4 linked regions of the Homo sapiens genome follow. The protein of the gene in region 1 purifies or fractionates together with the protein of each later gene. This does not show direct contact. Each region holds a gene or a part of one and is shown in the gene's direction. Other genes may lie near its edges.

Region 1 (7,025 bases):
CAGGGGCATCTGCATATACTGTAGCAGGCTGGGCAAGGAGTCTTTCTGCTCTTTCTTGGCATGCTTCACCCAACTGATGACAGCCTCAAAGACTGGTTCTTCAGGATCCACCTGAATTTCATCGCACTTGATTAGCTTTTCCACCTCTCCTTGCCTCAGAAGAATGAACTCTTCATGCTGTACCACTTCAGGAAAATTCTTCTGGCTAAAAACCTCAGCTGCTTGTGTCAGGTCAACACAATTGTGGGTTTCAGCAAAATCCCTAATACCCAGGCAATTAGAAGGGTCCAACTGACTTTCTAAGAACTCACAGCAGGCTTGTTTCACACCTTTCAACTGAAGCAGACAGGCTGCAGGAAGCAGTTCCTGTACATTCTCCATGTCACATGTACTGTTTCCGTGTACACAAAGTCCAATAAAATTTCCATGGTAGAGGCAGTCAAACCTTGGATGTCAACATAGGGTTTCCCCTTCTATAAAGGTCACTAGTGAACATGGCACAGAAGTAATCACTACAGGCAGCCAGCACAATCTCATGGGCAGGAAAGTCTTTCTGCTCTACTCAATGTCACATCACAGAAGGTATTGCTCTTCCCAACGGAGTTCATTGAACTGAGGATTGATTTAGCATGAGTATTTGTCATTATGTCTTTGGGGGCCATAATGCCTCCCATAAAGCAGTGCGGAGAAAGAACAAAAATAGGTCCTTGGATTCTGCAACTCTGCTTCTGATCCCACACAGCCGCGCCAGGGCCTGTCCCCAGCCTGTGGGGATGGAGTGGGGTGCGGGTCCAGCAGGTGGCTCAGGAGGAGCCGAAGCGTCGCCGCCGCCGCCCCGGCCCGGAGGCTCTGGAGCTGTCCGGGTCTGCTCCCTGCGGCCACGCGACGTGATGACCAGAAGAAAATCTTGAGGATCTAGCTAGGGCTAGGCAAGGAATTCTTAGACTTGACCCCAAAAGCATGAGCCATAAAAAGAAAAATTGATAAGCTGGACTTCATCAAAATTAAAAAATATTTGCAAACCACCTATCTGACAAAGGACTAGTATTAAATAAATACATATATAAACAACTCTTAAAACTCAATAAACGGCCAGGTGTGGTGGCTCACACCTGTAATCCCAGCACTTTGAAAGGCTGAAGTGAGCGGATCACGAGGTCAGGAGTTCGAGACCAGAGACCAGCCTGGCCAACATGGTGAAACCCCATCTCTACTAAAACTACAAAAATTAGTTGGGCGCGGTGGCACACGCCTGTAATCCCAGCTACTTGGGAGGCTGAGGCAGGAGAATTGCTTGAACCTGGGAGGCAGAGGTTGCAGTGAGCCGAGACCGTGCCTTTGCACTCCAGCCTGGGCGACAGAGTGAGACTCCATCTCAAAAACAAAAAACCTTGGCAAAATACTGCAAATAACCCCATTAAAAAGAGGGCAAAAGAAGCCGGGCACGGTGGCTCACACCTGTAATCCCAGCACTTTGGGAGGCCAAGGTGGGTGGATCACGAGGTCAGGAGATTGAGACCATCCTGGCTAACACGGTGAAACCCCATCTCTACTAAAAATACAAAAAATTAGCTGGATGTGGTGGCGGACGTCTATAGTCCCAGCTACTTGGGAGGCTGAGGCAGGAGAATGGTGTGAACCCAGGAGGCAGAGGGTGCAGTGAGCTGAGATTGTGCCACTGCACTCCAGCCTGGGCGACACGGCAAGACTCTGTCTCAAAAAAAAACAAACAAAACAAAACAAAACAAAACAAAAAACAGAAGGCAAAAGAGTTGAAGAAACATTTCACTGAAGAGGATGTATAGATGGCAAATAAGCATATAAGGAGATATGTAACATTATTAGCTATCAGGGAAATGCAAATTAAAGCCACAGTGAGAGAACTACCTCAGGATGACTAAAATAAAAAGTAGTGAAAATACGAAATACTGGTGACTGTGCAGGGAAACTATGCTCATGGATTGCTGATAGGAATGTGAAATGGTACAGCCACTCTGGAAAACAGATCTGGCAGTTACCATCCTGGGTATTTATCCCAGAGAAATGAAAACTACTCTGTATACGTTAGCCAGGCATGGTGATGCGTGCCTGTAATCCCAGCTACTCCGGAGGCTGAGGCACAAGAATTGCTTGAACCCGGGAGGCAGAGGTTGCAGTGAGCCAAGATTGTGCCACTATATTCCAGCATGGGCAATAGACCAAGACCCTGTCTCAAAAAAATAAAAAATAACTTATCTGTACATGAATGTTAATAGTAGCTTTATTGGTAATAGCCAGAAACTGGAAACAAATCAGGTGTTTTCAACAGTGAATGGTTAAACAAGCTGTGGTAGATACCCATGGAATACTACTGAGCAATAGAAAAGGAACCAACTATTGGTACATGTTGAGTACCCTTTATCTGAAATGCTGGGGACCAGAAGTGTTTTGGATTTCAGATTTTTTCAGATTTTGGAATCTTTGCATTATAGTTACTGGTTCAGCATTTCTTATCCAAAAGTCTGAAATGCATTTCCTTTGAGTGCCGTGTTTGTGCTCAAAAAGTCTCAGATTTTGGAGGTACTCAACCTGTACATGCAACAACCTGGTAGAACCTGGGTTGGGGTAGAAAGCCAATGTCAAAAGGTTGTATACTGATTTAATTCAGACAACACTCTTGAAGTTACAAAACTGTAGAAATAGAGAAGAGATTGGTGGTTTCCAGGGCTTAAGGAAGGGATTAGGGTAAGGGAGGTGAGTGGATGTCACCCTAAAGGGCAGCCCCTCGGGATCCTGGTGGTGATAGGACAGTTCTGTGGCTGTGTCCACGTCAGCATCCTGGTGACCCTGTGATATAGTGACACAGGCTCCTACCATGGGGGAAAGAAGGCACGTGAGACCTCTGTATTTTTACTTCCAACTACACGTGACTACACTTATCTCAAAATGAAAAGTTTAATTAAAAAGAAAAACCTCGGCTGGGCGTGGTGGCTCATGCCTATAATCCTAGCACTTTGGAAGGCCGAGGCAGGTGGGTCACGAGGTCAGGAGATCGAGACCATCCTGGCCAACATGGTGAAACCCTGTCTCTATTAAAAATACAAAAGTTAGCTGGGTATGGTGGCGGGCGCCTATAATCCCAGCTACTCGGGAAGCTGAGGCAGGAGAATCATTCGAACCCGGGAGGCGGAGATTGCAGTGAGCCGAGATCGTGCCACTGCACTCCGGCCTGGTGACAGAGCGAGACTCCGTCTCAAAAAAAAAAAAAAAAAGAAAAACCTCCCCAGACCCCTACTGGTGATAGGAGAAGACCCAAACCAAACCCTTGGTGTGTGTTCTTCCTCCCCACTGCTCCGTCCACCTCTCTAGACTCTTGTGTTTTTGCCACCCGCATGGCCTCAGTGTTAGTGACTTGCCCAGTAACATAGCTCTGGAGCCTCCACACCCTGAGGGGCTCCTCTACCCTCAAAACACCCAGGGCCTTGCCTTGGGGCCTTCTGTTGGCCTGCTGGGTGTGAGTGGGTGGGTTCCGGAAGTGGTAGGGCCAGGGTAAGAGGTGCCCATGATGGGGGCAGGCTGGGCCCTATGGAGATAGCCCAACAGAGGGAGGGTAAAAAGCCCACAGAAGGTTCAGGACCAGAATCAAGAACCATGTGTATTTTTCTCCCCACATCATGAGTTTAGTGTCAGATATTATTTACAAACATTTTAAAAGCAGGGTCAGCAGGCCCGGAGGATTGCATGTCCAGTGGGAGTGGGGGAGGGGTGGAGGCCACTGAGGGTGGGTCAGCGGTCCCCAGGGTTCTGTGGCTTCTTCCAGACTGGCTTGGAAAAAATGCTTTTATTTTCTTGGAGTTCCCCCATGCAGATGTTAACTTTAGGAGCAAAGGAAAGACAAAGGCTACATTTCATTTCTGAGTCTATAGATGTATCCGCTATTGGGAAGAGGTTAGAGGTCAATGACTAGGACAGTATGTCCCATGAGAATCGAGGGAGGATTCTTGTCTGTATGTGAGTGGGAAGTGGTGAAGCCTCACAGCGTTGTCAGGCAGGTGTGGGGTGGTGATTGGCCTTGACAGAGTACCCAGCCACCCTTCCTCACTGCCCTCTCACGCCATTTCTCCTGGTGGCTCCACACAGGTGTATGCCCACGCAGGCGCGACGCTGGAGGGGAAGATGTATATCACCTGCGGCCGCAGAGGGGAGGATTACCTGAAAGAGACACACTGCTACGATCCAGGCAGCAACACTTGGCACACACTGGCTGATGGGCCTGTGCGGCGCGCCTGGCACGGCATGGCAACCCTCCTCAACAAGCTGTATGTGATCGGGGGCAGCAACAACGATGCCGGATACAGGAGGGACGTGCACCAGGTGAGTGGGGCCCGGGGCAGTCCACACCCGTCATCATTCCCAAGCCTCTCAGTTGTTATTGATGGAAAATGTAATTGAATCATGTGCCTTTTAAAAATAGACTATTTTTTAGAGCAGTTTTAGGTTCACAGCAAAATTAAGTGGAAGGTACAGTTTCCATACACCCCCTTTTCCCCCCATACACATATAGCCTCCCCACTGCAGACCTCTCGCTCCAGAGGGGTGGATGTGTCACAGTTGTTGAAACTGCATTGATGCATCACCATCAACCAGAGTCCACAGTGTTCACTCTTGGCACATTCTATAGGTTTGGACAAATGTCACCATGACAGTATCACACACATACACATCTACCTTTGCTTATTACTCTTAAAAACTTTTAGGCCGGATGTGGTGGCACATGCCTGTAATCCAAGCAGTTTGGGAAGCCAAGGCGAGAGGATCACTTGAGCTCAGGAGCTTGAGACCAGCCTGGGCATCATGGCAAAACCCCATCTCTACAAAAATACAAAAATTAGCCAGGTGTGGTTGCATGCCTGTACTCTCAGCTACTTGGGAGGCTGAGGTTGGGGGATGGCTTGAGCCCAGGAGGCAGAGGTTTCAGTAAGCTGAGATCACGCCACTGCACTCCAGCCTGGGCGACAGAGCCAGGCCTTGTCTCAAAAAAAACAAAAAAAAACAACAACAAAACTTTTAGATCCAGGCTGGCAGCACATACCTGTAGTCCCAGCTACTCAGGAGGCTGAAGTGGGAGGATTGTTTCAGCCCAGAGTTGGAGGCTTCACTGAGCTATGATCACACCGCTGTTCCCCAGCCTAGGTGACAGAATGAGACCCTGTCTCTATTCAAAACAAAATAAAACAAAACAACAGAACAAAACTTTTATTATAAAGTTAATATAACCACATTGCCGGAACTTTAAAAAATAGAGATGGGTGGCCGGGCGCGGTGGCTCACGCCTGTAATCCCAGCACTTTGGGAGGTTGAGGCAGGTGGATCACGAGGTCAGGAGTTCAAGACCAGCTTGGCCAAGATGGTGAAACTCCATCTCTACTAAAAATACAAAAATTAGCCAGGTGCGGTGATGGGCGCCTGTAATCCCAGTTACTTGGGAAGACTGAGGCAGGAGAATCGCTGGAACCCGGGAGGCAGAGGTTGCAGTGAGCTGAGATCACACGACTGCACTCCAGCCTGGGCAACAGAGCAAGACTCCATCTCAAAAAAAAAAAAAAAATAGAGAAGGGTGAGGAAAAGCATTCATAATCAGGCCCCTGCAGTACTGTTTTTCAGTATGACCATTTTCAGCATTGACCGTGTATGTTTTCTGCCTGATTGTAGTCAAAGAGCATCCCATTCTGAGCTGGGCACAGTGGCTCACACCCGTAATCCCTGCATTTTGGGAAGCCAAGGCAGGTGGATGGCTTGAGTCCAGGAACTGATACCAGCCTGGGCAACATGGTGAAACTCCATCTCTACTAAAAATACAAAAAAAAATTAGCCAGGCATGGTGGCTTGCACCTGTGGTCCCAGCTACTTGGGAGGCTGAGGGAGAATCAACTGAGCCCAGGAGGTTGAGGCTGCAGTGAACCGTGATGGTGCCACTGCACTCCAGCCTGGGCAACAGAGCGAGACCTTGTCTCAAACAAACAAACAAACAAACAAAAAAGAGCATCCCATATCCCATTCTGCTTCTCTCAGTGACTTTTGTCCTGGGCATTTTCCAGATTAACACTCAATCTTCATCATCCCCTCTTGTGTCTAAGTTTTAACTATTCCAAATAACATGACAAGTAATAGTTGCTTTGTTGAGCTTTTCAGGTATTTTGGATTATTTCCTTAGGTTCATGCAACAGTTCTCAAAGTGTGATTCTCAGACTAACAGAGTCTGCATCACCTGGGAACGCTGTGTTACGAGGCACCTCAGACCCACTGATTCGGAAGCCCTGAGGGTGGGTCTTGGCGATCTGGCTTTTAACAGGTCCTCTGCTTGTGAGATCCTCTGGGCCAGCACATTAGTTTTCTATTGCTTCAGTAACCTATCACCACAAACATAGCAACTTAAGATAAATTTATTCTGCATTCATAAGTCCTCTGACATGGGCCTTGCCAGGCTAAAACCAGGGTGCGGTCAGGGCATCTTTCCTTTGTGGAGACCCTAGTGGGGATCTGCCTCCCTGCTCACTCTGGTTAGAAGAATTCAGTCCCTGGCAGTTGCAGTCCCATTTCCTTGCTAGCTGTCAGTTGAGGGCCTTCTTGGCTTCTAGAGGTCCCCACTTTTCCTGGCTTGGGGACACTTCGTCTTCAAAGCCAGCAATGGCAGGTTGAGTCCTCCTCACTTCTCAGCTCTCTTGTCTGGCTTTACCCTTCCTTTTTTTCTTTTTTTTTTTTTTATGAGATGGAGTCTTGCTTTGTCACCCAGGCTGGGGGGCACTGGTGCAGTCTCAGCTCACTGCAACCTCTGCCTCCTGGGTTTAAGCGATTCTCCTGCTTCAGCCTCCGGAGTAGCTAGGAGGACTACAGGTGTTCGCCACCACACCTAGCTAATTTTTCTATTTTTAGTAGAGACGGGGTTTTGCCATGTCGGCCAGGCTGGTCTCAAACTCCTGACCTCAGGTGATCCACGCACCTCAGCCTCCCAAAGTGCTAGGATTACAGGCGTGAGCCACCACCCC
Region 2 (7,025 bases), on another chromosome or scaffold:
CATTTTCTTTTATTAATAAATGCATAGCTCCCCCCACAACAAAGGAAATCCCTAGGGGATAAACTATAAAGCACTTCCCCACCTGGAGATTTTGATATTCTCTAACCCAGAAGGCTTAGATTTAATTAGCAATGTGCAGGGAGGAGGCAAGCCATGGGCTTGCTTGGAGTCAGAATTAGATCTAAAATTTGGTCCTCCCTTTGACCTTTGGTACTAAAATGCAGAAGGCCCTGGATTTTCGGAGGGAAAAGTCTGATGCTGGCCTTTGGGGGAAAAAGTCTCCCCTGAAAACTGATAGTTACGCTCCTACACTCATTACAAGTTGGGGTATGAATTTATTACTTTCTGCATAATCCAGGAACTTCCAAGCTAAGCAATGAACAAAATAGTTTCTGTTTATAATTCCCAAATTCCTGGCAGTAACAAATGCATAATCTCTCTGGAAGGAGATACCCTTTGTATCTCTTTACTTAAATAAAGGTAAATAAAGTCTACTAAACTTACAAAGAACCCAAGAAAACAGTCTACATTGAGTCAGCAAATAAATCAGACCTCTAAGAACTTTAAATAGTAGAATTATTAGATATAGACTGTAAAATAATTTAATGTATATTTAAAGTACTTAAGGAAATAAAAGACTGCCATAGAAATGATATACCAAAATAGGCTATAGATATTTGAAAAAAGAATAGAATAGAATCTCTACAATGAATATAGGCATTGAAATGTACAACTAAATGGATGCATTAAGAAACTGAGCAGAAGTCTGATGAAGTGGGAGACAGATCAGAAAAAAAATTTCCCAACACAGCAATGACAGTGAAATAGGAGAGGCAGTTTTCAAAAAGTAAAATGGATCCTATGTAAACATGGATGAGAATTTTGATTAAAATTAGTGCGTCTTTGGTGAAAAATGTAGCGTTACCTATAGCACTGCTGCAGTGCTTTCTTGCATTATAACATTTTCTGGCAATATAGCCTTAAAAATTGGTTACATCCAATAATGCATTTCTTAGACCATCAAAAAAATAAAATCCAGTATTTTTGTATGGTATAATGAAGTAAATTCATTACTAAATATAATCAAATAACTTTAGCACCAGAAGGATTCTAAAAGAACTTTTGACATAAATAGAAGTTAGGGAACTGATTTAATCCCACAGGTCTAGGTAATGACAGAGCTGCAGCTAGAAGATTCCAAGTCTAGCGTTTTTTTCTCTGTGTTTTGCTGCATATTTTAGACATGTAGATAAAGCTATTTTGGTCAGATTTTCAAGATCAAAAGTTTAGGTTTTAAAGCATTTTGGAAAAAGCTGAAAGTGTGTATAAGGCATTGCTAATATAATATAAGCAGTTCTTTTAACCAGTAATGTTTTTAATGGAATTACTGTTGCTTTCCCCATGTTGCTTTATCAGAGCAAGATATGTGAATTACATCAAAACATCAGAGGTTGTCAGACTGCCCTATCCTCTCCAAATGAAATCTTCAGGTCCACCTTCTTACTTTATTAAAAGGGAATCGTGGGGCTGGACAGACTTTCTAATGAACCCAATGGTATGTATCAGGCTAAAATAAAGCACTTTACTAATACCTAATTTGCTTCTAGGCAGTGGAAACTTCAAACCTCTGTGAGATAGAAAGCTGAGGTCAGATTGGTGGATGAAAGGATAATTGTGAATAATTTGCAGATTTCAGAAGAATAGTGGCTTTGGGAATACATAATGAAGAGAATATAATGAGAATTGCACTGTAGATTTGATTATTGAAATGTGTAATAGAAATTGGATAAATATTTATAGCATGTTTTACATTTCAAATAGAATAAGAATACTCAGTAAGTCAGTCATACCTGGAGCTGTCTCATTCTTCATACTACCTGCGTATTTTTTGTTTGTGGTTTGTTTTGGCTTTTTTTAGACGGGGTTTCGCTCTTGTTGGCCAGGCTGGAGTGCAATGGTGCGATCTCGGCTCACCACAACCTCTGCCTCCCAGGTTCAAGCGATTCTCATGCCTCAGCCTCCCAAGTAGCTGGGATTACAGGCATGTGCCACCACGCCCGGCTAATTTTGTATTTTTAGTAGTGACAGAGTTTCTCCATCTTGGCCAGGCTGGTCTTGAACTCCTGACCTCAGGTGATCTGCCCGCCTCGGCCTCCTAAAGTGCTGGGATTACAGGCGTGAGCCACCGCACCCAGCCATACTGCCTGCATATTATTAGTCCATTGATGAATGTGCCATCATTTATTAACCAGCCCCTATTGATAGCACAAGTAAGGATTTCTTCCTCTTTTTTTAACATGTGTAGTGAAGAGAAAAGTTATTCTATGGTAATTTAAGTAGTTGGCATTATGAACCGATGTTATGATACTCACTAATAATAAAACACTAATAGCATGCATTCTTTAAAAATTTGTTTTTATTTTTAATTATTATAGGTGCCTAATAGATGTACATTTATGAAGTACATATGATGTTTTGATATAGGCATACGATGTGTATTAATCACATCAGGGTAATTGGGATATCCCTCACCTTAAGCATTTATCATGTTTTTATAAATGTTAGGAACATACCAATTCCACTCTTTGATTGTGATTTTAAAATATACAATAAATTATTGTTGACTATCATCAAGAAAACAGTTTTTAGAAACAAATCGACCTTTTCTTTTGCTGTTTTTAAAAATTGAATTGCTGTCTTAGAATTTGTCTAAGTAGGCCAGGCGCGGTGGCTCACGCCTGTAATCCCAGCACTTTGGGAGGCTGAGGTGGGCGGATCACAAGGTCAGGAGTTCGAGACCAGCCTGGCCAACATGGTGAAACCTCATCTCTATCAAAAATATAAAAAGTTAGCTGGGTGTGGTGGCGGGGACCTGTAATCCCAGCTACTTGGGAGGCTGAGGCAGGAGAACTGCTTGAACCAGAGGGGGTGGAGGTTGCAGTGAGCCAAGATTGCACCACCACACTTCAGCCCGGGGAACAGAGCGAGACCGTGTCTCAAAAAATAAAAATAAAAATAAAAGAATTTATCTAAGTTTTGGTCATAATCCTTGCTGATAGCTATTTAGATCACACATGATCTGTTTTCAGAGGCTGTATATCCCCTAGGGAGGAATAAATTAGTACCTAGAATCTGTAATCAGAGATAAAGAGGCGGGGGGAGACTGGATGGAAGAAGTCAGCAGTGAAACTCCAGAGCTTATTCACCTTCCATGTTCTCATTTCTGAAATTCCGTGGAAGTGTATCTAGTGCTCCAGTGCTTGATGCTTCTAGGTCATTTTTCAAAACTGGTCTGCTAAAGTAGGTCAGTTTTCCAAGAACCACAGTCACCTGAAAAGAGCAGTTAGCTTGCCATCAGATCACCAATCCCATTGCCAGACTATAGATTAAAAAAAAAAAAAAAGGGAATAGATAGTTCCATTTGCAAACTATTTGTGTTAAATAACACTGTAACTCTGCAAAAAGATAGGTGGGTGGCACAACTATGAAGTGAGGTGTCTATAAAGTCCAAACATACATACAGAAAACTTTAATATTCTATAATAGTCCACCATAGTCAGACAGACAGCCCCTTGCTATCATCAGAACTGGCTCAGTAGAATTGCGGTGGTTGCTACTAGTGTTATTGTATAGACAACGTTTAAATCTTTAATTTTACCATTGGTTGTTAAGTGCAGTTTTTGTTCTATTAACTGTAAAGTGGGGGAAAAACATTTTCTGGATTTTTTTTTTCTGCAGGTTATGATGATGGTTCTTCCTTTATTGATATTTGTGCTTCTGCCTAAAGTGGTCAACACAAGTGATCCTGACATGAGACGGGTAAGATGATGGTCCAGCTATGGATTTTTTTTTTTTTAAGAGATAGAGCCTCTGTTGCTCAAGCTGGAATGCAGTGGCACAATCAGTTTGAGTGGCCTCAAACTCCTGGGCTCAAGCTATCCACCTGCCTCAGCCTCCCAAAGCACTGGGATTATAGGTCCGAGGCACCATGCCTGGCCCCACCTGTGGGTTTTTGAACCGTATTGTGATGTTTGCTCTGTCCCATCGTAGCTGGGTAGCTTAGTTTTTCTCAATTTTATTCTAGTTCCCAAGCCAAATTAATCTAGAGGTTGTATTAACATAGTATCATGTTTATGGCTTTTAATTAGTTGCTTCCATTAGACTAGATAAATTGTTAGTTCTGCCTGGCCTGGATCTCTTTATGTAGCTAAAACATCTTACTGCATCCTAGCCTCTTTGTGTGCCTTACTTTTTAAATAGCTGAAATGTACAATACTTCTGGTATGCTGAATCTAAATATTTTACAAAGTGATTGTTCCTGTGATCTGCCTTTACTTTACAAAACTCTCTTCAGAGTACATACTCAGTTTATGTGTTCAGACACACAGATAGACCAAGGGGGATGGATAAGTAGAAGAGTGACCTTTGAATTCTGTTCCACAAAACCATACTGGTTCTGCAGAGGGAGAGGATTTGCTAAGTAGGATGCTTCCAATTTAGTGCCACCACATTTTCTCTTTGAATATTGGCTTCTATTTGAACTCTTCATTTTTTCAAAAAACCATCATGCATTTTTCCGTTCAACCATCAACAAGTATCTTCTGAGTTTCAAGGTTCCCCATTTTATTTAGTATATAGATGTGGTGACATTTTATTCATTCCTGAGTAAACATTTATCAATTTCTAGGGTCTAGATACTGGAGATACAGAAATGAATTATAGGCCATACCTGTCATCAGTAGGCTCAGTCCCAGTTAAATGTAGAAAATAGAATGGATTTATCAAATATTCTTCTTGCTATCAGGGGATTTTGTGACTTTTTCTTTTCTTTTTTCTTAATAGAAATTTGTCTTATTTCTTAAAGAAATAAGGTAAATAAAAATGTTTGCTAAGGTAGTAGGTGATTATGTTCTGTGGAAGGTAATAAGGGGTATATTCAAAGCAGGAATGGCAGAAAAAGATTCATAGGAAAAGAAAGGTTTTTGATATTTCAAAATGTTTTATTGGTGAATGTTTGCATTTTTGCTTCAGTGTTAGACTGAAAGTAATACATCCTGTGCATTCCTTGTATATGTTAAGCCAATTAACTGTGGCATCAGTAGAAGGAAACATCAGAAGTCACATTTGATTAAAAGTTCATTCTGGCCGGGCGCGGTGGCGCAGGCCTGTAATCCCAGCACTTTGGGAGGCCAAGGCAGGTGGATCACCTGAGGTCAGGAGTTCACGACCAGCCTGACTAACATGGTGAAACCCCGTCTCTACTAAATACAAAAAAATTAGCCGGGCATGGTGGCGCATGCCTGTAATCTGAGCTACTTGGGAGGCTGAGACAGGAGAATCGCTTGAAACTGGGAGGCAGAGGTTGCAGTGAGCTGAGATCGTGCCATTGCACTCCAGCCTGGGCAATAAGAGCAAAACTCCGTTAAAAAAAAAAAAAGTTCATTCCTTGTGAAGTGCTTTGCACATAGTAAGCATCTTAAAAAGTTGATTCAAGAGCTTCAGAAGCTCTCTTCCTTGGCACTGCCTGCAGAGGTGGCACCATCTCCTACTTGGCATCATGGCTGCCCTCAGATCCTTTGTGAAGCCCAAGATCATCAAAAAGACAACTAAGAGGTTTATCTGGCACCAGTCAGACCAATATGTCAAAATTTAGCTTAACTGGCAGAAACCTAGAGGTGTTGACAACAGTGTTCGTAGAAGATTCAAGGGCCAGATCTTGATCCCCAACATTGGTTATGGGAGCAGCAAAGAAACAAAGTACTTACTACCCAGTGGCTTCTGGAAGTTCCTGGTCTACAACATCAAGGAGCTGGAAGTACTGCTGATCTGCAACAAATGTTACCGTGCTGAGATTACTCACAGTGTTTCCTCCAAGAACCACAAAACCATCTGGAAAGAGCAGCCCAGCTGGCCATCACAGTCACTAGTCCCAATGCCAGGCTCCACAGTGAGGAAAAGGAATCAACGGCTCTCATGCATGTTTTATTTGTGTTTAAATAAAACCACAAAAACTGAAAAAAAAAAAAAAAAAAAAGGGGAGCTTCAGAATTGAACAGATTCAAAAATAGAGTTGATATATGTTTGCAGGGACTCAAGAGCTGTTACCATATACATTTATTTCTTAATTATTGGGGCATGTTAACATACTTGATTTATGTTTACAATATTTCTTTCGCTAGCCTTATTTGTAAAAGCAACTTCTCCTTTAAAATTTAGGAATCAATTCTACCTTTGTGGGAAAAGCTCAAGCTAATATCCCAACAGTGTTCAATTTGAAATGGAAGCCTAGTGCTGTGCTGTGTGCCTATAGTCCCAGCTGCCCAGGAAGCTGAGGCAGGAAGATCACCTGAGCACTGTCTCCTAAAAAAAAAAAGAAAAGAAAAAAATGAAAGAAATGATAGATAATATAGTATTTGCTATCTTTTTCATGTATGAATGAACTAAAGTCAATTTTAAGTTCACTTTGAGAATGTCACTTAAAATTTAAATGAAGCAGATGTTACATTAATATTATATAACTATCAAACAGTACTTTATAGATTTTTGGCTCAATTAAAGGGGAGGACAAATACTCAAAAGTGCCAAGTCCTATCCTGTTTTGCCAATGACTTCTTTGTAACAGTGTGTTGCTTGCTTTAGAGTCTAATTGAAGTCATGCAAGCCATACAGCATTCATAGATTTACTACTGAGGCTTATAAATGAATTCTTAGAAATATTGCACTTATTTTCCAAACTGTACTGATACCTTGATATATAGTTAAAAATTAATATTCTGGTTATATGCATCTAAAGGAAGCATGAACTTAAAAATGTACTCATTAAAACAATAAGAAATCACTTTAATCAGAAAACATAAAATAAGAGAGGAATATGATCAAATATATTCAGTATCAGAAAAAAGTGTTCTTTATTAAGACAAGCAGAATCACACGAAAGGGAACATCACACACAGGGCCTGTTGTGGGGTGGGGGGAGGTGGGAGGGATAGCATTAGAAGATATACCTAATGTTAAATGATGAGTTA
Region 3 (7,769 bases), on another chromosome or scaffold:
TTTTGACAGGTCCTGGCTCTCTTCCCACAGTTTTCTATTTGGAACATGCACTCACCAGTAACTTTGATCTTTCTGAGGAGAACTGGCATCCAATGTCCCTAGTCATTCATTTTGGGAAAAAAGACAAGACCTGTTGAATTACATCTATTTGAGGATCTCTGAGCTTCCTGTATCTGCATGTCTAAATCTCTTTTTAGACTTCGGATGTTTTCAGCTATTATTTTATTAAATAGGTTTTCTATCCCTTTTATTTTCTTTCTGTTTTCTGGGACACTAAAAATCCAAAATATTTGGTTGCTGTATGGTGTCCCATATTTCACATGGGCTTTTCTCATTCTTTTTATTCTTTTTTCTTCATTTTTGTCTGACTGGTTTATTTCAAAAGCGCAGTCTTCAAGTTCTGAAATTCTTTCTTTTGCTTGATTTAGCCTATTATTTATGCTTTCAAATGTATTTTGTATTTCATTCCATAAATTCTTCTAGAATTTATTTGCTGCTTTTTAAAGTGATATCTGTCTGGTAAATTTCTCATTTATATCCTAAGTTGTTTTTCTGATTTTTTTGTATAGTTCCTCGGAGTTCTCGTGTGTCTTACTGAGCTTCTTAAAAATCTGTATTTTCCATTATTTATTCAGCATTTTGTTAATTTCTTTCTGATTGGATCTGTTGCTGGTGAATTATTATATTCCTTTGGAAGTGTCATTTTCCCTTGCTTTTCCATGTTTCTTGTGCTAATTCACTGATGTCTGTGCATCTGGTGTAACAGTTGCTTCTTCCAATTTTTGAATTTGCTTTTGTAGGGAAGAACTTTTTCCTGAAGATGTATTTATGATATTGGTTGGGTAGTGCTTTGATTCTGTGTATGTGCAGTATTGCAGTCTCCATATGATTTTTTTGGCTGTAAGCAGTGTCAGTGGTGCCTGTGATTTTCTCAGTGGCATAGGGTGCAGCTGCTAGTACAGGCTGTGACATTTTCGTGGTCACAGGTATATCAGGTTGGCCAGTGCTCAGGCTTTATTGGTGAAAACATCAGGCTGAGCATGCCTGTCACTGGGCCTCTGGGTGGCATAAGCTGGCATTGGCATTAGTTGGTCCAGGTGGGCTGATTCCTGGGGCTCCAGGTAGCTTGCTCACATGTTGGCAGTGGCAGAAGTGGGCTGGGTGAGTGGCCATATCCTCAGGCCTCTTGGCAGTGGGCGTGGCATGGTGATGGCAGTAGCAGTGGCAGGATAATCCTCTGCCTTGCAATTGGTCCTCACTAGTGTTGGCAGTGACTACAATGGGCTGGGTGGGCTAGTACCCAGGCCTGCATGTGGCATGTGTGAGTGGATGCCTGCTGTGGTAGTAGCATCAGGTTGGGTGGGCTCATTCCCAGGACCCTGGGAAGAGTGCTCTGGTGTTAATGGTGGTTTATGGGGCAGGGCAATTCCCAGACCACCTGATGGCATGTTCAGCACTAGTAGGTGGAATCAGGCTGAGTAGGCCTGTCCTCGGGTCCCTTTTTTTTGTTGGCAATTTTTTGATTACCATTTCAATTTTGCTGCTTGTTCAGAGATTCTGTTCAGAGATTCTGTATCTTGCTAGTTTAATCTAGGAGGGTTGTATATTTCCAGGAATTCATCCATCTTTTCTAGGTTTTCTAGTTTATGCTCATAAAGGTGTTCATAGTAGCCTTAAATGATCTTTTTTATTTCTGTGGTATCAGTTGTAATCTCCTGTTTTATTTCTAATTGAGCTTATTTGGATCTTCTCTCTTCTTTTCTTGGTTATCTCACTAATGATCTGTCAATTTTATTTATCTTTACAAAGAACAAGCCTTTTGTTTCATTTATCTTTTGTAATTTTTGTTTGTTTCAATTTCATTTAGTTCTTCTCCGATTTTTCTTATATCCTTTCTTCTGCTAAGTTTGGGTTTGGATTGTTCTTTCTCCAGTTCCGTGAGGTGTGACCTTGGATTGTCTATTTGTGCTCTTTCAGACTTTTTGATGTAGGTATTTAGTGCTATGAACTTTCCTCTTAGCACAGCTTTTGCTGTATCCCAGAGGTTTTGATAGGTTGTGTCACAATTATCGTATTGTACAGTTCAAAGAATTGCAAAAATATAGAACCAGCCCAAATGCCCATCAATCAATGAGTGGATAAAGAAAATGTGATATATATATATCCCATAGAATATTACTTAGCCATACAAAGGAATGAAATAGTGGCATTCACAGCAACCTGGGTGGAATTGGAAACTATTATTCTAAGTGACGTAACTCGGGAATGGAAAGCCAAACATTGTACGTTCTCACTCATAATTGGGATCTAAGCTATGAGGATGCAAAGGCATAAGAATGATACACTGGACTTTGGGGACTTGGGGGAATGGGTGGGTGGTGGCAAGGAATAAAAGACTACATGTTGGGAACAGGGTGCACTGCTCAGGTGATGGGTGCACCAAAATCTCAGAAATCATGACTAAGTAACTTATTCATGTAACCAAACACCACTCGTTCCCCCAAAACCTATTGAAATTAAAAAAAAAACAAAACACATGCACACGAATGTTCATTGCAGTACTATTCAGAATAGCAAAGACATGGAGTCAACCTAAATGCTCATCAATGACAGATTGTCCAAAGAAAATGTGATACATATACACCACGGAATACTATGCAGCCATAAAAAAGAATGAGACTCTGTTATTTGCAGGAACATGGATGGAGCTGCAGGCCACTATTCTTAGCATATTTACCCAGGAACAGAAAACCAAATATTGCATGTTCTCACTTATAAATGGGTGCTAAATGATGAGAACTCATGGACACAAAGAGGGGAGCAACAAACACTGGGACCTACCAGAGGGAGGAGGGTGGGAGGAAGAAGATCAGAAAACATAACAATTGGACTAGGCTTAGTACCTGGGTGACTAAAAAATCTGTACAACAAATTTCTGTGTCATGAGTTTACCTATATAACAAACCTACATGTGTACCCCTGAACATAAATAAAAGATTTTAAAAATTTAACTGATTATATGTTTAATGTTTATTTTTGGGCTATTCTATTTCATTTGTTTATGTCTGTCCTTATGCTGGTACCACGCTATTTTGATTACTTCAGGTTTGTTGTAAGTTTTGAAATCAGGAAATTTGAATCATCCAACATTGTTCTTTTTCAAAATTATTTTGAGTACTCTGAGCCCCTTGAAATTCCATATATATTTTAGAATAGACTTTTTTATTTATACCAAAAACATCATTGGGATCCTGATCGGGATTGCTTTAAATCTATAGATCACTTTTGTGAAGTATTATCCATTTTAATAATTGTAAGTTTTCTAATTCATGAACATAGAATGTCTTCTCATTACTTATGCCTCCTTCAATTTCTTTCAGCAATGTTTTGTATTTTGCAATGTACAAGTCTTTTGCCTCACTGGTTAAATTTATTCCTAAGTACTTTACTCTTCTTGATAGTATTGTAAATTGAATTGTTTTATTAGTTCCCTTTTTAGATATTTACTTCATAGCATATAGGAATGTAGCTGATATTTTTGTGTTTATTTTGTATTCAGCAACTTTGTTGAATTTGTATATTACCTCTGTGTATGTGTTTGTCTCCCTCTCTCTCCCTCTGTATAATATTTGGCGTTTGCTACACATAAGGTCATGCCATACGTGAACAGAGGTAATTTTACTTTTTTTCTGTTTTTTTTTCTTTCTTGCCTAATTCCTCTGATTAGAACTTCTAATACTATGTTGAATAAAAATGGCAAATGTAGGCATCTTTGCCTTGTTCTTCATAATAAGACATCCTGTGATTTTTAACATGCATTATGTTGTATGTTTTGGCAGCATTGTTGTTTTTCTTGCAAATAATTTAATAGTTTAACTCAAAGCTTCTAGGATGCTTTCATGTTGTTAGGTGAATCATTCCATGACTGCCGAATAAGGAATTTTCCAAGTGAATCTCAGAAATTTGTGTTTTAATAAGTGCTTCAGGTGATTCTGTTGCATACTCAAGTTTGAGAACCATTGTCCAAGGGGCAAAAGCTGCCATTGCCAATTGCTCTTTTTTATCTGAGAGGGGGCAGGATCCTCCTGGTCCACTGCTTGTGGATGCAACTTATTAAATGAAATAAGGCCATGAGTACTCTAGGGCCCAATCTCTGCTTTTTGTTTTGTTCACTCCTGTTTAAAATTTCACTCAGGGCTCTCTTTGGAAGAATTGCACTTACCTTTGCCATCCGGGGCTGAGGTTTCATTTTCTTTGGTTATTCCCCAGGCCAGTACCATTTGCTTTTTACTTTCCAGAAGTTCTGTAAAGATTGTTGATGGTACCCTTTCTTAGCTTTTTTTTTTTTTTTTGGTCTTGATATAGTCCTATTCTTCTAAAAAATCTTTTCATTTGTCTCCGTCAGACTTTGATGGAGAGGAGGGGAGATATTGTTTACATTTGTTAAAAATGGCTTTTAAGTTAAATTCTAACTAAGGGTCTATTAGGAAATAAAATTGCCTTCTGACTCCTTTTGATTTATTTTGCAGAATTGCATATATCCAAAGCTCTGGGTAATTATTAAACATTAGAAGTATAGAACAAACAGGCCAGCCAGGCCCGGCGAGGCCGCGGCGGGTCCGGCGCCCCGGACCTCCGGACCCGGAGGTCCGGCGCCCTGGTTGGCGCCCTGCCCCCAAAGTCCGTCCTCCCCGTTAGGTGGCGCCCAAGGGGAGGGGACAGCCGGGCAGGCAGGAAGCTGCGGCTTAAAAGGGCAACCCGCGCCGGACCCTTCCTTCCTAGTCGCGGGGAGTCTGAGAAAGCGCACCTGTTCCGCGACCGTCACGCACCCCTCCTCCGCCTGCCGCGATGTACCGCTACCTGGCCAAAGCGCTGCTGCCGTCCCGGGCCGGGCCCGCTGCCCTGGGCTCCGCGGCCAACCACTCGGCCGCGTTGCTGGGCCGGGGCCGCGGACAGCCCGCCGCCGCCTCGCAGCCGGGGCTCGCATTGGCCGCCCGGCGCCACTACAGCGAGTTGGTGGCCGACCGCGAGGACGACCCCAACTTCTTCAAGATGGTGGAGGGCTTCTTCGATCGCGGCGCCAGCATCGTGGAGGACAAGTTGGTGAAGGACCTGAGGACCCAGGAAAGCGAGGAGCAGAAGCGGAACCGGGTGCGCGGCATCCTGCGGATCATCAAGCCCTGCAACCATGTGCTGAGTCTCTCCTTCCCCATCCGGCGCGACGACGGCTCCTGGGAGGTCATCGAAGGCTACCGGGCCCAGCACAGCCAGCACCGCACGCCCTGCAAGGGAGGTATCCGTTACAGCACTGATGTGAGTGTAGATGAAGTAAAAGCTTTGGCTTCTCTGATGACATACAAGTGTGCAGTGGTTGATGTGCCGTTTGGGGGTGCTAAAGCTGGTGTTAAGATCAATCCCAAGAACTATACCGAAAATGAATTGGAAAAGATCACAAGGAGGTTCACCATGGAGCTAGCAAAGAAGGGCTTTATTGGTCCTGGCGTTGATGTGCCTGCTCCAGACATGAACACAGGTGAGCGGGAGATGTCCTGGATTGCTGATACCTATGCCAGCACCATAGGGCACTATGATATTAATGCACACGCCTGTGTTACTGGTAAACCCATCAGCCAAGGGGGAATCCATGGACGCATCTCTGCTACTGGCCGTGGTGTCTTCCATGGGATTGAAAACTTCATCAATGAAGCTTCTTACATGAGCATTTTAGGAATGACACCAGGGTTTAGAGATAAAACATTTGTTGTTCAGGGATTTGGTAATGTGGGCCTACACTCTATGAGATATTTACATCGTTTTGGTGCTAAATGTATTGCTGTTGGTGAGTCTGATGGGAGTATATGGAATCCAGATGGTATTGACCCAAAGGAACTGGAAGACTTCAAATTGCAACATGGGTCCATTCTGGGCTTCCCCAAGGCAAAGCCCTATGAAGGAAGCATCTTGGAGGTCGACTGTGACATACTGATCCCAGCTGCCACTGAGAAGCAGTTGACCAAATCCAACGCACCCAGAGTCAAAGCCAAGATCATTGCTGAAGGTGCCAATGGGCCAACAACTCCAGAAGCTGATAAGATCTTCCTGGAGAGAAACATTTTGGTTATTCCAGATCTCTACTTGAATGCTGGAGGAGTGACAGTATCTTACTTTGAGTGGCTGAAGAATCTAAATCATGTCAGCTATGGCCGTTTGACCTTCAAATATGAAAGGGATTCTAACTACCACTTGCTCCTGTCTGTTCAAGAGAGTTTAGAAAGAAAATTTGGAAAGCATGGTGGAACTATTCCCATTGTACCCACGGCAGAGTTCCAAGACAGTATATCGGGTGCATCTGAGAAAGACATTGTGCACTCTGCCTTGGCATACACAATGGAGCGTTCTGCCAGGCAAATTATGCACACAGCCATGAAGTATAACCTGGGATTGGACCTGAGAACAGCTGCCTATGTCAATGCCATTGAAAAAGTCTTCAAAGTGTACAGTGAAGCTGGTGTGACCTTCACATAGATGGATCATGGCTGACTTCCTCACTAACCTCTTCACGTGTAACTTCTGCAGACCTACCACAAGTTTACATGTAACCACAGAAATCCCTTTCTCTCCTGACTCATTACTAATGGATACCATTCTCAACAAGTCAATCCAAATCAGCCCGTTAAGGAGAAAGAAATTAATATACAAGCTGAGTGTGAAAGTAGAAATCACCTACACCAGAGAGCTATTTTGGTATTTTGCCTTTAAATAAAAAGCCTCCTCCATATGGCTGTGCAGCCTTGCTCTGTGGCTTTTCCCAGCACAATCAGTGCTAGTGCTGGGGAAGGGACAGTCAAGAGCAGTCAGTTGCTTACTTATTTTGCTCTGGATGAGTCTGGGACACGCTGTAACTTTAACACATTTAAGAAGAAGGTGTGTGGCCTTTTCAGAAGGTGGCATGGTCCTCAAGTGAGTTCTTAGTATTTTATATCAGCAAAATAACTCAATTTTGCAGATTGCAAACAAATATAAAAGCTGTTTCTGTTTATGAATTTTATTCTTTTAGAATAGAATAAGTACATGCTGCTGTAATAAAATTGCCTTTAATCACTTAACAAGCCTAACCTTGACTCAGTGAATGCCTATAAAAATAATAAATGAAAAAAAACAGTATTTTTATATCATAAAAGTTTCATTTGTAGCTTATCATTCACGTATTGTTGTCCAGCAAACATTAAAAGCCCTGTGGATAATTACGTTATCTTCATACCTGCAAAACGGTGGAGGCTATTTTCGTTAAAACTGTCAGAATTCGCTGTTATAATTATGACACATAGTCCAAAGAATGCAGTAACCTTTTTATCATGTTAACTAATTGTTCTCTTTTGAAGATCTATGGTTGACTAATTAAACAATAATTCAAGTAGAGTGTCCCAGAAAAAAACCACTTGGGCTCCCTGTTTGGAGTCTGGCTGGCTCTGAGCATTGCCAATGGCCCCTACTCACCTGACTTTGTATCCTCTTCTTTTAGAGGCTTTGCATTCTGCACCCAGCTTCACTAACAGTGGGCTGAAACCAACCTTGGGTTGAGTGTTTCATTTGGGAGTTATTTGGCCAGGGCCTTTTGAACAATAGTGTCCCCATGAAGTGCTAGATAATATATGTGTAAGAATCAGCTTTTTTTTTTTTAACTATAATATCCTTCAGAAATTTCTAACTACTTTGTAACTGCATGGCTTAACCTGGTGATAAAAGCAGTTATTAAAAGTCTACATTTT
Region 4 (7,025 bases), on another chromosome or scaffold:
TTCTTATTGAAATTTGCTTGGTTGTCTTAAACTCTTATGATTGGTTTTATTTTAGTCAAAATTCAGAGAAGGTCCTCTCATCCTATTTGTGTGTTTTTTGTTTTGCTATGTGTATTAAATGTCTTAATGTTAGTGCAGTCCTGCCCCAGTCCTCCCTTCCTTTTCTTAATGCTTCATGACTTGTTGAAGAAACAGTTCATTCTGTATATAAGAGCTTAAATAATGGATTTGGTTTTTTGCTTCTTTGTGGTACTGAAATTACTGTCTTTGCATTTCCTGTAAAATGGAAGTTAGCACCAAAGGCTTGCTTAGATTCCGGTTCACCTGTTTTAGCAAGAATACTTGAGAAGCAAAATGCTGTAGGATTGGTATTATCTATCACATCAGAAGTCTTGCAGTGCCTTTTTGTCCTCCTGCCCCACACCTTTTTTGGGGCGGGGCGGGGGGGGGGGCGGTGTAAAACTTTATTTTTTAGAGCAGTTTTTTAGGTTCACAGCAAAATGGAGCCAAAAGTACAGAGGATTCCCATAAGCCCCCACCCACCACACTTGCACAGGCTCTCATTATCAACATCCTCCACCAGAGTGGTACGTATATTACAATTAGCCAGCCTATATTGACAAATCATTATCACCCAAAGTCCTTAGTTTGCATTTTGATTCACTCTTGGTGTTTTGTTCCCCTTTTAATGATGTTAAGATTGATCAGAACATTTAGTGGAACAGTAGAACCTGGTCATTAAAAACATTTCCTTTCATCCATTGATCATTGTTTCTTAGATCTACTTTTTATTAGTTGCAGAGTGGTGATCTTTCTAAATGTATAATTCCTTCCATGTTTCTTAACTTAAATGAAGAAAAAGTTTTCCTTAATCAGGTAATGGTACTTAGTTACCTTGAAGTGTGGTTGGTACAGCAAAGTCAGGGTAGATGCTATTTTTTTCTTTAATTGCCATTTCTCAGAGTCATGAGATCTATAGGTATTTCCAGTGATACCCAGTGACCAAAGAGAGATTTCTCATTTCTCTTCATCTTCTCCTCCCTTGTCCCTCTCTCCCTTTTTTTTTTCTCCTTCAGTTTCTTTAGTATTTATGGATTAATGGATTTTTACTTCTAGTCAGTTGCATTTTTCTTTTTTTGAAGTGTAGATTGTTTCATCTTTGGACGGTGGGAGACCTGTGTTGCCTCCCTGTCACATTAGTTTTGAGAGCTACTTAGCTTTTTGGCCCAGTATATCCCAGACAAATCTTGTGTTTTCCTCCCTCCAATCTGAGAATCAGCCATTTTTCCAGTTGGGGTATGGTATCTAGAGAACTCAGTCTGGGTACTAGATTCTCATTTTGCTCTTGGGTTTTCGTCGAGTCTAGGAATTTTTAGTGGACAAAACTAGAAAATGTGCATTTTGAACAGAAAAAAATGAATATGAAGTATTATTAAAGAAATTAGCTACTTTGATTTTTATATTTGCTTGTGTTCTCATATACTGAAAACAGTAACGTGATTGCTTTTCATTTTCATACAATATAGACATACACATAGTAGTTTGAAAGTAGTGTTACTGCCAACAAGGCTACCAGATGACACTAAGATTTTTCTGCCACTTTTTTTTTATCCCAAAGGTGTATAATCATAACTAGGGGTACATGTGCAGGTATCTATAAATATTTGTTTGTTACATGAGTAACCTATATAACAAACACAAGTTTACCTATATGACAAACCTGCACATGTACCCCTGAACATAAAAGTTTAATAAATAATGTATAATCAAATTATTGTGTATCAGGGTTACCTGAAATAAATCTTTTCTTTGTAGATGTGGTGCCAGTTTCATAAGTGATTTTTTTTTTTTTTTTACATTTTTATGGGATATGCACTCTAGCTTACTTGGTTTTGATATCTGTATTTTCTTTACTAGAATAGACATTTCAAAAGTAATGTAATGCAACAGTAAATATAGACATTTATTCATTTCCTTTTTTCTATCATTGGACGTTACAGAAATGCTAAATATACCCTTTTAATAATTTTTTCATTCTAGTGTACTCTTTATGTACAGTAATTCTCCAAGCTTCTGAAAAAACCTTTAGTAATTCAGGCAAGCCTACCTCAAAAATTAGACCTGAAGAGTGTATGTGATATATAAAGGTTTTAACTTTTGATTATCTAATTCATTTTCCTTGTATTCTTAAACTTTTTCTCCCTTTCAGTGTTTACATAGCTTTAAAATTTGGCCGGGCATGGTGGCTGATGCCTGTAATCTCAGTACTTTGGGAGGCTGAGGTGGGTGGATCACTCGAGGTCAGGAGTTTCAGACCAGCCTGGCCAACATGGTGAAACCCCGTCTCCACTAAAAATACAGAAATTAGCCAGGTGTGGTGGCGCACGCCTGTAATCCCAGCTACTCAGGAGGCTGAGGCAGGAGAATCACTTGAACCCAGGAGGTGGAGGTTGCAGTGAGCCGAGATCACGCTACTGCACTCTAGCCTGGCAACCGAGCGAGAGACTGTCTCAAAAAAAAGATAGGTTTAAAAGTCTTTCTTTTTGTTATTGTTGGTTCATTAGGAAGAATTGTTTATTCTTTCTGAAAATTAGACAAAGTGTTCAGAAGTCATTTCTGAATTCACTATTCACAGAGGCTTACCCTAGGGCCAACCTCCCAATTTTTTCCTAGTCCACTAATTTTGGAAAATCTGCAGTTAATTAATGGAAAAAGAGAAATAGTTGTGTGCCAGATGCTATCCAAATTGCCTTTGCTGTCTCATTTAATTCTCTTAATTCTTGTGCATGACCACAGGTGTTTTTATTTTTGTAGCTCTGTTGTATGCTAACAGTTTGTTCAGGTAATCTAGAGTTACATATGAAGATAAAACATTTCCTAAGTTCTCCAAGTATGATTTTACGGCATTCTAAGTGACATATTGGGCTAAAAATTTTAATTGTGTAATTATTTTGTATTCCTCTGGTTGTGTTTTTTAATATGTGTGACAAATGCACTTAGGGATATTTATACCCATTCTTTAAGATGGAAAGTTTATAGCTTCATATTTGTAGTCCACCTTATGTATTCTCAACTGATGAGTTTCTAACTTCATCTGACAAAAGGTAATGTTAAATGAATGTTAGGACCCTAGTACATTGTAATTGCAGGGGGATTGGGCAGATTTTCATACTCATACATTTCAGTCTGCACTAGTCATTTCTGTATGTTTAGACATTCACTTTATCTGGCATTCCTAGAAAATTATTAATTTTTTTGTTACTAGAATTTACTTTTTTTGAGTGCTGGTCCTAACATCTTTGGTGAAATATTTCTGAAAATTGTTAGTTTTCCCTATTTTTGGATAAAGCTTTCTAAATGTAATTTAGCCTATTCATGATGACTCCTTTTGTCATTTGAGCATTGGTTATTATATAATGTGCTTAGTAATACAGAGATGCCATTAAATTAAATACTCAGACTGCCAGAAAACTTAGCACATGAATTGACTCATTAAATCTGAAATATATTTTTCTCCTCTTTAAACAGCTTTAGTGCAGCCGTCATTATCCATGACACCGGAAACTGTGAAAGATGTTGGATTTGGTAGCCTTGTTATACCAGGCGGTTCTGTTGCCAGCAATCTTGCTACTTCCGCTCTGCCAGCTGGAAATGTTTTTAATGCTCCAACTAAACAGGCAGAGCCTGAAGAAAAAGTACCTCATCTTATAGACCACCAGATTTCTTCTGGTGAAAACACCAGATCAGGTAAATAATAATAATAAAATTTAAAAAAAGAGGTTGCCTCTCTGTATTTGGTGTTTAATTCTGGGGTGGCATGCGTTTGTAACCACTTCAATCTACAGATGCTGAAATGTCGCACTTTTTTTTTAAAAGAGATCACTATGTCCTAAAATTTCTATTTGAAAAAGTGGCCTTCTGTTCAGGATAATCTAGATTTCAATATGTTTCCATTAAGACCCTCACACCACCACCCCCTTTTTTTTGTCCTATTGGGACTACTTCAGTGTGTTGTCAAAATAATACTGCACAAAATCTGTATACTTATAGGAAGATAAAAATGAACAAGTATTGGGTGTGAGTAACTTCTATCGGGAACTTACTTCTAATAGGTATTATCCAGCTAGCTCTAGAAGATAAATATGGTGTTTGAAAGCAGTAAGTCCTTTTTCTATGGTCCCACTGTTGGTACATTAAGAATTATGGTTTAGAGGCACTTGACCTTGATGCCTGTTTGGGTCTCTTCTAAGCATACTTTTCTTTCCTTTCTTTCCTGTCCTAAAGCCTTTTAAACCTCCACTCCTGTTCTTAAAAAAAAAAAAAAAAAAAAAAAAAAAAAAAAAAAAAAAGAATTATGGTTTAGAAAGGCTTTTATTAAAGGTGGAAAATCAGTATAATACCTGACATTTCTGTTTAACTTAAAAAGATGTCATGTAGTAGCTAATGTACCTTGATTATTGGGGGATACAAGTAGCTGATTAAGCTAAAATTATTGGAAACTTTTGACTGTTATTTTGAGTTTTTTCTCTCTCTCTTTTTTTTTAGTGATTCCAAATGATATTTCAAGTAATGCTGCAATTTTAGGAGGACAGCCGCCAAATGTGACAAGCAATTCTGGAATTCTGGGAGTCCAAAGACCAAATGTATCAAGTAATTCTGAAATTCTTGGGGTCCGGCCATCTAATGTTTCCAGTAGTTCTGGGATTATTGCAGCCCAACCACCAAATATTCTAAATAACTCTGGAATATTGGGAATACAGCCACCCAGTGTGTCAAATAGTTCTGGACTTTTGGGAGTGCTACCCCCAAATATACCTAACAATTCTGGACTTGTAGGAGTACAGCCACCAAATGTTCCAAATACTCCTGGACTTCTGGGAACACAGCCACCAGCTGGACCTCAAAACTTACCCCCTTTAAGTATCCCTAATCAAAGGATGCCCACAATGCCAATGTTAGACATTCGTCCGGGACTAATACCACAGGCACCTGGGCCAAGATTCCCTTTAATACAGCCTGGAATTCCACCCCAACGGGGAATCCCACCCCCATCGGTACTTGATTCAGCTCTTCATCCACCACCCCGTGGACCTTTTCCTCCAGGAGATATTTTTAGTCAACCAGAAAGACCTTTTTTAGCTCCTGGAAGACAAAGCGTAGACAATGTTACTAACCCAGAAAAAAGGATACCACTTGGGAATGATAACATTCAACAGGAAGGAGATAGAGATTACCGGTTTCCTCCTATAGAAACCAGGGAAAGCATTAGTAGACCTCCCCCTGTGGATGTTAGAGATGTGGTTGGGCGGCCTATAGATCCAAGAGAAGGTCCTGGACGGCCTCCACTAGATGGTAGGGATCATTTTGGAAGACCTCCTGTAGATATAAGAGAGAATCTTGTGAGGCCAGGTATAGATCATCTTGGTCGAAGAGACCACTTTGGCTTTAATCCAGAGAAGCCCTGGGGGCATAGAGGAGATTTTGATGAGAGAGAGCATCGGGTTCTACCGGTCTATGGTGGTCCAAAAGGCTTACATGAAGAAAGAGGTAGATTTCGGTCTGGAAACTATCGATTTGATCCTAGAAGTGGTCCTTGGAACCGAGGATTTGGACAAGAAGTTCACAGAGATTTTGATGACCGCAGAAGACCCTGGGAGAGGCAAAGGGATAGGGATGACAGAGATTTTGATTTCTGCAGAGAAATGAATGGAAATCGTCTTGGACGAGACAGAATTCAAAACACTTGGGTTCCCCCTCCTCATGCTCGGGTTTTTGATTATTTTGAAGGGGCCACTTCTCAACGAAAAGGTGATAATGTGCCTCAGGTTAATGGTGAAAATACAGAGAGACATGCTCAGCCACCACCTATACCAGTACAGAATGATCCTGAACTTTATGAAAAACTGACATCTTCAAATGAAATAAACAAGGAGAAGAGTGACACAGTTGCTGATATAGAAAGTGAACCAGTGGTAGAAAGCACAGAAACTGAGGGGACATAATCATCACTCAGTAGGTAAAAGATACCTTTTGTAAAGTTGTCATCTCTCTGTAATAGATAATGGCTGACTGGACCATAGTTGTTCACTTTTGTCTGCCAGAATTAAGTTAATCTGATGTTCATGTTCACCTTTCTCTTAAAATAATTGTACAACTGACTTGTATAGACATTGTTCTTAATATGAACATGGTAGGTAAACTTTTTTTTTATTTTTTTCTGATAAAATACAAATGTTGGCCCCAGATTCTTTTAACGTCAAGGAAATGAATAACAGCTTGTCAGAGACTTCCTATGGAAGAAAGAATTTTTTAGATACTATCATTAGGTTGGATATGGTAATAGATATATTTCAGAATAGCAAGTGGTGGTATATCTTATCCATATCTTTAGGCTGCTGCAGAATTTTAAGGTTATAGATAAAGCTGTGATATTTTATGCAAAGACTGGCTCTAGGTATTTGAGGAGCACAATACAGAGATTTTAAAAAGTGATTTTGTAAAATCTACACTACGGTCTCTGTTTCTCCAAAGTAAGTGTTTGTGATTTGTTCCTCATACTGCAGTGAGTAAAAAAGAAACAAGAAAACAACAACATAAATATTAAAGTACGTTTCAATGTTGGGTGAATTTTGTTTTTAGATGCCAATAAAACTTATTTGTTTGATAACAGTGTTCTAGGAATTGTATTTTTTTAACCTATAAATTCTTAAAACCTTGAATTATTATTAGCATGTGCTTATTTTTTGCAAAAGCTTTCTATCATAACAACAATGAACTATGTGGTGGAAAAAGCATGTACTTTGATATAAAAATCATGCAGCCTCCTCAGTATGTGTATAATATCTGTGTATGTTTATTGTGGAAGTCGTGTAGTTTTTTTCTGTTTCTCTGTATGTCCGTCTTCATGCACATACAGAGAAAATAGAAAGTTGAAAAAGTTTAGATAATAAAATATTCTTTTAAATCTGGTAGAATATTGGAGAAATCTGGCTAATTAACATGGGTTATAGTTAAAGCTCTTGGTC

Evidence for each region.
Region 2: the proteins of KLHL22 (region 1) and EMC7 purify together in Homo sapiens (co-immunoprecipitation; 4 studies listed by BioGRID and IntAct, with this or other methods). This does not show direct contact.
Region 3: the proteins of KLHL22 (region 1) and GLUD2 purify together in Homo sapiens (co-immunoprecipitation; 4 studies listed by BioGRID and IntAct, with this or other methods). This does not show direct contact.
Region 4: the proteins of KLHL22 (region 1) and SCAF8 purify together in Homo sapiens (co-immunoprecipitation; 3 studies listed by BioGRID and IntAct, with this or other methods). This does not show direct contact.

Annotation. Positions count from the first base shown.
Region 1 is NC_000022.11:20,443,771-20,450,795, reverse strand, and holds part of KLHL22 (kelch-like protein 22), read left to right. Parts: intron 1-4,119; coding exon 4,120-4,353; intron 4,354-7,025. UniProt on the Homo sapiens protein: Substrate-specific adapter of a BCR (BTB-CUL3-RBX1) E3 ubiquitin ligase complex required for chromosome alignment and localization of PLK1 at kinetochores.
Region 2 is NC_000015.10:34,084,847-34,091,871, reverse strand, and holds part of EMC7 (endoplasmic reticulum membrane protein complex subunit 7 precursor), read left to right. Parts: intron 1-1,416; coding exon 1,417-1,555; intron 1,556-3,738; coding exon 3,739-3,819; intron 3,820-5,505; exon of another isoform or gene 5,506-6,014; intron 6,015-7,025. UniProt on the Homo sapiens protein: Part of the endoplasmic reticulum membrane protein complex (EMC) that enables the energy-independent insertion into endoplasmic reticulum membranes of newly synthesized membrane proteins.
Region 3 is NC_000023.11:121,042,837-121,050,605, forward strand, and holds GLUD2 (glutamate dehydrogenase 2, mitochondrial precursor), read left to right. Parts: upstream 1-4,773; 5' UTR 4,774-4,848; coding exon 4,849-6,525; 3' UTR 6,526-7,258; downstream 7,259-7,769. UniProt on the Homo sapiens protein: Important for recycling the chief excitatory neurotransmitter, glutamate, during neurotransmission.
Region 4 is NC_000006.12:154,827,394-154,834,418, forward strand, and holds the end of SCAF8 (SR-related and CTD-associated factor 8), read left to right. Parts: intron 1-3,528; coding exon 3,529-3,747; intron 3,748-4,545; coding exon 4,546-6,002; 3' UTR 6,003-6,828; downstream 6,829-7,025. UniProt on the Homo sapiens protein: Anti-terminator protein required to prevent early mRNA termination during transcription. Together with SCAF4, acts by suppressing the use of early, alternative poly(A) sites, thereby preventing the accumulation of non-functional truncated proteins.